Homo sapiens: one gene and its partners. The protein of the gene in region 3 purifies or fractionates together with the protein of the main gene of each other region. This does not show direct contact. Each region holds a gene or a part of one and is shown on either strand. Other genes may lie near its edges.

Region 1 (2,522 bases), on a different chromosome or scaffold from region 3:
TGGGATGCATTTGTTGTCCTTTCAGAACCCTTCCTCCCATTACCCTGTGAATAAAAACAAATGGGACCCCCTGAGAAGGACATCTTCCTACAGTGATCACCTCACCAGCCCAGTGTTGTGGCTTTGTAGCGCACCCCGTATCTACCATATTCTAGAACACTGTAATGCTACTAGGCTGGCCCAGAAAAGGTTTAAATGTTGAATTCACTTAAATTGCAATTGTTGCACCATCATGGAATCGTGATGTGTATTATTTATATTGGCGGTGGACTCCAAGGTGTAGAGAAAACTTGGGTCTTGGGTAATATGGACCATTTCATCCTCAGACTTGTTAGGAGTACATTTCTTGGTCTTGAGACCAGTATTTTTCAGTTATGTATGCAACTGCCTTTATTACACCTGGTTATCACAATTCAATTCTCAGGTGTTGCAGAAAAATCTACCTCTTTCAGACTGTAGATGGAAATAACTGTGAAAAAAATGATGCAGATATCTTCTAGTTTGTGCTAAACACACTGCTTTATTTTTACAGCCCACGTCTTTCATGAGGATACGAATTGTTAAGAGGCAGTCTCGTTTTGCTTTTCAAAGACATTTTGTAGAGATTTTTCACTAATGTGAATCTGATTTTATCTACTTGATTCTGTATAGATTAAGTAAATATGTATGATAAACTTAACAGCTTCTGTGTATTCTTTCATTATCCATGTGACCTTAACTGTAGGAGTCCAAAGGTACCATTTTACCCATTTCTACTCAAAAAGTAGACTCCCCCGCCCCCCCCCACTAAGCTTTTAAAAAAACACAAGTTTTATTTTAAAACTTTATTTCTGCAAAGCCAATCAAGAAGTGTTGGAAGGAAAAAGTGTAAAAGTTATTCTTGCATATTTGGGAACAGCAAGCACTTAGTTTGAGAAAATGAGGACTTAAAACAGTTGAATCAAAGGCAATACCCTGCTACTTGTATTTAAAATCAATGGTGATGTTCTTTCTTAAGCAACATTCTTCTCTTCCCTAATAGCTACAATATGATACAGTACGCAACAGCTCACTTGAAAGTGCTAGAATCAGAGGATAAAGAAGCCATAAGCCACCCCACTTACATTTCCTACTATACAATGCCTTTTTGGCGCTTGATAAATCAAGCATTCATGTAGCATTACATTCAACAGAAACATTTCTCGTACTTTGGGTTTAAGATCCTTGTCCCTCCAGTTCGGATGTCGTGACATCTGACTCTTCATCATTGTAAATATTTTCAGCCTGGAGATAACCAAATAAATTCACAGGTAAAAACTCCCTATGGTTTTCACATGGTCATGTAAAAACAATTTAATCTATTTAGAACTTAATAGTTTCATTTTTACATTTCTCTCTTAAAAACTTCAATAAGGAAATGGTAGGCTAGCCAGTATTTTGAAAAATTCTTTGCCAGTGTGTAATTCCGTATGTATACTTAGCCACCCATCGATGCACTACTTATTTCAATCACTGTTCATAAGAGATGTTTTCCAAAGGCACTTCAAGCATCGTTTAGAGGAAGTGGTAGCCCAGATGTTATGGAAGTCTCGGTTAACAACAACTTAGAAATGTCAGCTACTTAGTGCTCATCCTCAGAGAACTTGCTGTCATTTGAATGCCTTGACCTCTCCTTCCTGTATCCCTCATGCCTACCACACAGAACAGACACTGGAGACAGAGTAGCGACGCCAAGACTCCAGTGTATGAAGAGCACAACAACAATGAAAATCAGTGCAGATGCAGAGATTTCTCCTGACCTGACAGGTGCTACAAATAGCAAACAGTGGACGAAGCACCATATGGGACTAAAGATTGTATTGTTGAAATGGAAAAAGTTCTTTTAAACGGTTTCTGTAAATGTTTGGCATAATATGCACCTACATATTCGAAATAACTTTATTACATTATGTAAGTAGTAAATCTCTCCTTTACAAGACAGTCATTCAAGAAAAACATTTTAACTCACCATTTGCCATATCTGCATGATGTTATCCTCAGACACTGAGCAAATGACCCAAGGCTCATTGGGGTTCCAGCTAAAATCTGAAATCTTAGCAGTGTGTCCTCCATGAATAAACTGTTACAAGAACAAAAAAAGCTTTGATTTCATATACTCTCCTGTTAATCCTAACAAAGGTTTTACTAAGTTTTTAGAGCTATCAGTATTTCAACTGGGGGTGGGTGCTGTCTGGTTTTAGAAGGTGGTACAGGCTCAGTAATCTATTTATACTTATTTTGCAAATTTCCAAACCTCCAGAATAGGTGACAGAATATAGTACAATGGATACCTGTATACCCTTTACCTAGATTCACCAAGTGATACTAGCATAACTGATGCTTTATCCATGAGCCTATACAATGAAATGGCTGAAGACTTCAGCCTGCATCCCTTAAGAATGAGGACATTTTCCTAGTCAAAATGCCATTTCCATACTGATTATGATGAACATTAATCCAGCATCATTTGCTCATATACAGTTAGGTGCAAACATCTAAGGTAA
Region 2 (3,739 bases), on a different chromosome or scaffold from region 3:
GGCCGAGGCAGGCAGATCACCTGAGGTCAGGAGTTCGAGGCCAGCCTGACCAACATGGAGAAACCCAGTCTCTACTAAAAAAAATTACAAAAATTTAGCCAGGCGTGGTGGCGCATGCCTGTAATCTCAGCTACTCGGGAGGCTGAGGCAGGAGAATCGCTTGAACCCAGGAGGCGGAGGTTGCAGAGAGCCAAGATCGCACCATTGCACTCCAGGCTGGAAAATAAGAACAAAACTCCGTCTCAAAAATAAAAATGCCGGGCACGGTGGCTCACGTCTGTAATTCCAGTACTTTGGGAGGCCAAAGAGGGCGGATCATGAGGTCAGGAGATCGAGACCACCCTGACCAACATGGTGAAACCCCGTCTCTACTAAATAAAAAACAACAACAAAAAAACTAGCCGGGCATGGTGGTGCATGCCTGTAATCCTAGCTAATCAGCAGGCTGAGGCAGGAGAATTGCTTGAACCTGGGAGGCAGAGGTTGCAGTGAGCTGAGATTGCTCTACTGAACTCCAGCCTGGGTGAGGCAGTGAGACTCTGTCTCAGAAAAAAAAAAAATTAAAAAAAAAATAAAGAAATAAAAAGTAAGAAAGTACTGATGAAAACATCCTCCCTCTCCTCATGATGAGTCAAAAACTATTCCCTGGAACTTAATTCCTGGTACTAGATCTACTCTGAGAGACACCAAGTTTCTTCTGAATTCTTTTCCTTTACCAGACAACCACCAAGTTACGCACTTCTTTAAAAACAAAAAAAAGTGGGGGGCGGGTGGGCAGCCTCACACATGTACTCCCAGCACTCTGGGAGGTGGGCAAATCGCTTGAGCTCACAAGTTCAAGACCAGACTGGCCAACATGGCAAACCCCATCTCTACAAAAAATTTTAAAAATTAACCAGGGCTGGTGATGCACACCTGTGGTCCCAGTTACTAGGGAGGCTGAGGTAGGAGGATGTCTTGAGCCCGGGAATTGGAGGCTGCAGTGAGCTGTAATCGCACCACTGCACTGTAGCCTGAACAACAGAGCAAGAAACTGTCTTCCACCTCCAAATTGTCGCAAACTCCATACAACATAAAATTTATCAGCTTAGCCATTTTAAGTGTACAGTTCAGTGGCATTAAGTACACTCACACTGCATTAACCATAACCACCACCTATCTCCGGAATATATACATATATATATTTTAATTGAGACGGAGTCTCGCTCTGTCGCCCAGGCCAGAGTGCAGTGACGCAATCTTGGCTCAATGCAAGCTCCGCCTCCCGTGTTCACGCCATTTTCCTGCCTCAGCCTCCTGAGGAGCTGGGACTACAGGCGCCCGCCACCACGCCCGGCTAATTTTTTTTTGTATTTTTAGTACAGATGGGGTTTCACTGTGTTAGCCAGGATGGTCTCGATCTCCTGACCTCGTGATCCACCCGCCTCGGCCTCCCAGAGTACTGGGATTACAGGCGTGAGCCAACGTGCTCGGCCGAATATAACTATTTTAAAAATATTAATGTATGAGACACCACAGTTATTTTTATTAAATTGAAGTGCTTTGAAAATTTAAGAGGCCAGGCGCGGTGGCTCATGCCTGCAATCCCAGCACTCCGGGAGGTCGAGGTGGGCGGATCACAAGGTCAGGAGTTTGAGACCAGCCTGGCCAACATAGTGAAACCGTCTCTACTGAAAATACAAAAAAATTAGCCAGGCATGGTGGTACGCACCTATAGTCCCAGCTACTCAGAAGGCTGAGGCAGGAGAATCGATCGAACCTGGGAGGTGGAAGTTGCAGTGAGCCGAGATTGCACCATTGCACTCCAGCCTGGGTGAAAAAGTGAGAGACCATCTCAAAAAAAAAAAAAGAGAAAATTTAAGGAGGGTGTTCACATTCTTTGAGATAGAGATAGGGAACATTTTTGAAATCTAGACAGCTTTCATGGAGAAATAGTAGTATTTGATGCTGTGATATGATATACCTCCTTTGGGTATGTAAATTTGTACTTGTAAGATGATAAGATGGGAGAAACACCGCAGATAGATGGTATGAAATCTGGAAGTGAACTAGAACTAGAAGTAAACAGACATGGAAAATTCTTGAGTTTTCAAGTCTGGTTAGCTAGGAAAATGTTGGAGTCATACAAAAAGAAAGAAAGAAGGAGGAGAGGGAAAAGGAGAAGTGGGAGAGAGGGTCAGTTTTGTTTAGCAGAGTTTAAAATACCAGTGGTATGACCAAATACAGTCAAGAGCAGGCAGCTGAAAATGATAATGTATAGACAAGTCTTAAAATCACACCTGGGAGTAAAATGAACAGAGATGGTAGCTGTAATCATAAAATATACAAATGTAAATTGATTCTATGTCTCACTTATTTCACCTCCCCAAAATAAATTACTAAACCCTTACCATTTGCCACACTTGCATGATATTGTCTTCTGATACAGAACAAATCACCCAAGGTTCATTGGGATTCCAGGAGAAATCAGATATCTTGGCAGTATGACCACCATGAATAAACTGAAAGAGGGAAGAAAACAAAGAGGTGAAATGCAGATAGAGGACATTAAATTACAGACTATTTCAGTACTGTCCAATGCTTTTAACATACCAACAACTCTGGTGGCCCGTCTTCTGCATCTTCTGGGGATTGTTCCTCTCCAATTTTACTAGTACAAAAGCATAATTTTAAAAGTTAAAACAGATTTACCCTTAGTAACTACCTTTGCAAAGTGTAAATAAAGGAAATAATTATGTAGAGAGAGGAATGAATACAAGAATTACCTTAAATCCCAGACATTCAGTCTGCGATCAGTACCACTGGAAGCTAAAATAGTCTCATTGTGAGGTGACCACTGAACCTACACATAGGAATGAAGAAAAGAGCAAAGCCATGAATTAGAAAATAAAGGGAAAAAATTCACAAAATATTTAACAATTTAAAAATTTTGTAAATAAAAGGGAAGAGGAAGTCAAGGTATTATACACGTTACAGTTAAAATTAAGAGCTAAAGAATTTATTTTATGGGCAGGCGCGGTTGGCTCACACCTGTAATCCCAGCACTTTGGGAGGCGGGTGGATCACATGAGGTCAGGAGTTCAAGATCAGCCTAACCAACATGGTGAAACACTGTCTCTACTAAAAATACAAAAATTAGCTGGGTGTGGTGGCAGGCGCCTGTAATCCCAGCTACTCGGGAGGCTGAGGCAGGAGGATTGCTTGAACCCAGGAAGCAGAGGTTGGAGCTGAGATCGTGCCACTGCACTCCAGCCTGGGTGACAGACTCTCTCAAAAACAAACAAAAAGAAAAACAAAAAAAAAATGTTTACAAAAACAACCCATTACTAGACATTTCTAGACCCAGGATATAAGCTTTTGTTCCATTCCCACAGCACCCCTTTGGCACACTTTTTCTTGAGACGGAAGTCTTGCTCTGTCACCCAGGCTGGAGTACAATGGCAGGATCTCAGCTCACTGAAACCTCCACCTCCCAGGTTCAAGCGACTCTCCCACCTTAGCCTCCCAGGTAGCTGGGATTACAGGTGTCCGCCACCACGGCCAGCTAATTTTTGTATTTGTGTAGAGATGGGGTTAGGCTGGTATCAAAAAAAAAAAGAGATGAGGCCTCGCTATATTGCTTCTAGGCTGGACTTGAACTCTTGGGCTCAAGGGATCTCGCTGCCTCAACCTCCTGCGTAGCTGGAGGTGTGTGCCATGTGCCCAGCATCATTTTATCTTTGGAAACATCACATCTTGT
Region 3 (3,739 bases):
AACAGATACATAGATCAGTGCAACAGTGGAAAAGAACAGAGAACCCAGAGATAAGTCCGTAAAGTCCATACATCTACATGGAACTCATTTTTGACAAAGCTACCAAGAACATACACTGGAGAAAGGACAGTCTCTTCAATAAATGGTAATGGGAAAATTGGATATCCATACACAGAAGAATGAAACTTGACCTGTATCCCTAACTATATAAAAAAATCAAATCAAAATGTATTAAAGACTTTAAGTCCTCAAACTGTGAAACTACAAGAAAACATTGGGAAAACTCTCCAGAACACTGGACTGGGCAAAGATTTCTTGAATAATACCCCACAGGCAACCAAAGCAAAAATGGACAAATGGGATCACATTAAGTTAAAAAGCTTCTGCACAGCAGAGGAAACAGCAAAGTGAAGAGACATCCCACAGAATGGAAGAAAATATTTGCAAACTACCCATTTGTCAAAGGATTAATAAATAACCAGAATATGTAAGAGCTCAAACAACTCTACTGAAAAAAATCCTAACAGTCCGATTTAAAAATAGGCAAAAGATCTGAACAGATGATTCTCAAAGGAAGACATACAAATGGCAAACAAGCATATTAAAAGCTGTTCAGTATCACTGATCATCAGAGAAATGCAATCAAAACTACAATGAGATAACATCTCATCCCAGATAAAATGGCTTTTATCCAAAAGTCAGGCAATAACAAATCCTGACAAGAATGTGGAGAAAAGGAAACCCTCATACACTTTTGGTGGGAACGCAAATTAGTACAATCACTGTGGAAGCAGTTTGAAGGTTCCTCAAAAAACTACAGATAAGAGTTACCCTACTCCTAGGTTTACACCCAAAAGAAAGTCAGTATATCAAAGAGATATGTGCACTCCCATGTTTACTGCAGCACTATTCACAGTAGCCATGATTTGGAAGCAACCTAAGTGTCCATCAACAGATAAATGGATAAAGAAAACATGGTATGTATACACAATAGAATACTATTCAACCATAAGCAATGAGACCCTGTAATTTGCAGCAACATGGATGGAACTGGAGTTTATTAAGTGAAATAAGCCAGACACAGAAAGACAAACTTGGCATGTTCTCACTTATTTGTGGGAGCTAAAAACTACAATTAAACTCATGGAGACAGAGAGAAGGATGGATACCAGAGGCTGAGAAAGGCAGTGGGGGTGGGGGAAAGTGGGGCTGGCTAATGGATACAAATAAATACAAAGAGAGACTAAGACCCAGTATTTGATAGCCCAACACAGTGACTACCGCAATAAATAATTTAATTATACATTTTAAAATAACTAAGAGTTAAACTGTTTGTAACAGGGATAAATGCTGGAGGTGATAAATACCCCATTTACCCTGATGTCCTTATTACTTATTGCATGCCTGTATCAAAGTATCTCATGTAACCTATAAATACATACTTACTCATAACAACTAAAAATTAAAAATTATACCACTACCTAAATTTGAAAGTGGAAGAATCTCAAATTATGAGCTTGGGTTCTCCCTTAAGGAAAAAAAAAAAAAAAAAAAAGTAAAGGCAATGGAGGGGTGCACAACAGGGACTAACACATCAATGACAGCCAAGCAGTGTTAAATACTTAGAAAGGGGAAATTTACATAATCCACATATTTACATATTCATGAATACTTACTGAAGGCTTTGGTCCTCGTTTCTTTTTCTCTGCCTTCTCCTTTTCTTCTAGTTCCATGTTTTCTCTTTCAATCAAAGTAATTAAGGTATTACATCTCCTCTGGAGCTCCTAAATTATAAACAAACATGGTACACGCACTTTCCATCCACAAGTTTCATGATTTCAATTTTAAAACAAGGTATGTTTTAATAGGATAATATATAAAACCACTAATACACCCCTGATTTAAAAAAAAAACAACTGATTTTCATATACAATTCATGCTATGAAGATTAAAGGCAAGATATTTGTAAATAATGTTTTTACTCCAATCTTTAAAGCCAAACTACTGTGTATTCTTCAAAAATTCTTCCTTCACTTAGGAATTAAAGCAATAAAAATGAACATATGCAATACTGCTACTTAGTGTGTATGTCTGAGAACTACTGTGCTACTTATATCCAAAACTTAAAAAGATTAATAGTGCACATATGTGAGGGTCAAAAACAACAAGAACTTTAACAGGTGTGTATAATCTTTCCCTTCAAAGTATCACTAGAATTATGGTAGTCAATCAATCACATGGCACCTTTCCCAATTTTGGAAAACCAGCCATGGAAGTCTACGATGAGTTCTACCTCATCTCTCTCTGGCAAACTGGACATACAGCCTCCAGAAAAGATTTAAAGTATAACATAGAAGTAGCAGTTAACCCTGAAAGAAACAGAAGTCCATCTGCACGGACGGCTGCTGGGTAGCAGCCCCCTTTCTTATAGAGCAAAATTATTTTTTTCTTATAGTAAGTGATACTACTACACACACAACTACAGTAAAATAATTTTAAAATACTACTGTATAGAATACACCACACAAGACTTAGAAATAGTATATAGAGATAGAAGAATACATTATCATTTTTTGTGCATCTTAACATGGAACATGTTAAGAAGTAACACAGTTTTAAATTACGGTACTGTACTAGTTAAATTAACATGGCACTGTCTTGTTACAATCACTATAAAATTATTCTTTATTAACTCTATAAATTGTTCCCACTTAAGAAGAAATAAGCTTTCAGCAACTGGATCTTTTCTCTAATTATATATTTATACAGTGTTTTATCTTCAAAGTATCTTCATGTATTTAAGTTTAGTACATTTCCCAAACTTGGGTATCACAAACAGTGATGTCTAGTGAAAAAAAATTTTCAGTGGTCAAACATGAAAATACTGCTTACTATCCACTGTCTTACAAAGTGACATTTTACTTTAAATATACAGAGAAATCTTACTATAAACAAACACAAAGATGTTTAAACTTTGCTTATCCCAGAATATCCCAAACTTAAGACTAAAGAACTTATTAGCATTATCCTCATCTGGCAGAAAACAAGTTGAAGCTCAAAGTTCAATGGTGGTGAAATAAGGAAGAAAAGGAGCAATCCATCAAAGTTAAACTTTTCTGAATTCAAATTTTAGGTTATTAGAAATGGGGCTATTTGGTCAGAAACTGTTAGTCAGATATTGGGAATAAAAACAAAACCTAGCACTAAATCAGTGCAAAAGTAGTGTTTCACTATAATAAGCCATCTTAAAATAATCCAGACTCTGGATGATTTATATTAAATAAATCAGAATGCTGATTCTGATGTGCAGATGCTTGAATGCAAGGACCATTTTTCTTTATAGAAATATGTTCATTTGAAAAACCAAAAAGTCGTAACACTCAGAAGTTGAAACTGATACTTCCTCCCACTTAGAACTTGAAAAGCTAGTCTTATCATATAGTGATATTTAAAGACGTAAGATACTAAAGGATAGGACCAATAAACTTGTAAGCTATCCCTGGTATTAGGTTTTATGATACTAACAATATTGTAACAAAAGTCTACTTCATAGATTTTTTTAAAGTCACCTTAAAGAATACCAAAGATGACACTTACTCTGAACTCTGCTACATTACACAAAAAAGCCCTGAGCACTCACCATTGCAGTTCTGGACTTAAGAAACCAGTCAAATCTGAACTGAGGAGAGTTGCGAATACACTGTCGCAATTCATCATAAACATTTTCTTTGTCAAATCC

The links.
Region 1: the proteins of SMARCA5 (region 3) and RBBP7 purify together in Homo sapiens (affinity purification with mass spectrometry; 4 studies listed by BioGRID and IntAct, with this or other methods). This does not show direct contact.
Region 2: the proteins of SMARCA5 (region 3) and RBBP4 fractionate together in Homo sapiens (co-fractionation; 6 studies listed by BioGRID and IntAct, with this or other methods). This does not show direct contact.

Annotation. Positions count from the first base shown.
Region 1 is NC_000023.11:16,843,841-16,846,362, forward strand, and holds the end of RBBP7 (histone-binding protein RBBP7), read right to left. Parts: intron 2,099-2,522; coding exon 1,988-2,098; intron 1,264-1,987; coding exon 1,195-1,263; 3' UTR 501-1,194; downstream 1-500. UniProt on the Homo sapiens protein: Core histone-binding subunit that may target chromatin remodeling factors, histone acetyltransferases and histone deacetylases to their histone substrates in a manner that is regulated by nucleosomal DNA.
Region 2 is NC_000001.11:32,671,553-32,675,291, reverse strand, and holds part of RBBP4 (histone-binding protein RBBP4), read right to left. Parts: intron 2,843-3,739; coding exon 2,766-2,842; intron 2,651-2,765; coding exon 2,593-2,650; intron 2,502-2,592; coding exon 2,391-2,501; intron 1-2,390. UniProt on the Homo sapiens protein: Core histone-binding subunit that may target chromatin assembly factors, chromatin remodeling factors and histone deacetylases to their histone substrates in a manner that is regulated by nucleosomal DNA.
Region 3 is NC_000004.12:143,548,042-143,551,780, reverse strand, and holds part of SMARCA5 (SWI/SNF-related matrix-associated actin-dependent regulator of chromatin subfamily A member 5), read right to left. Parts: coding exon 3,641-3,739; intron 1,785-3,640; coding exon 1,677-1,784; intron 1-1,676. UniProt on the Homo sapiens protein: ATPase that possesses intrinsic ATP-dependent nucleosome-remodeling activity.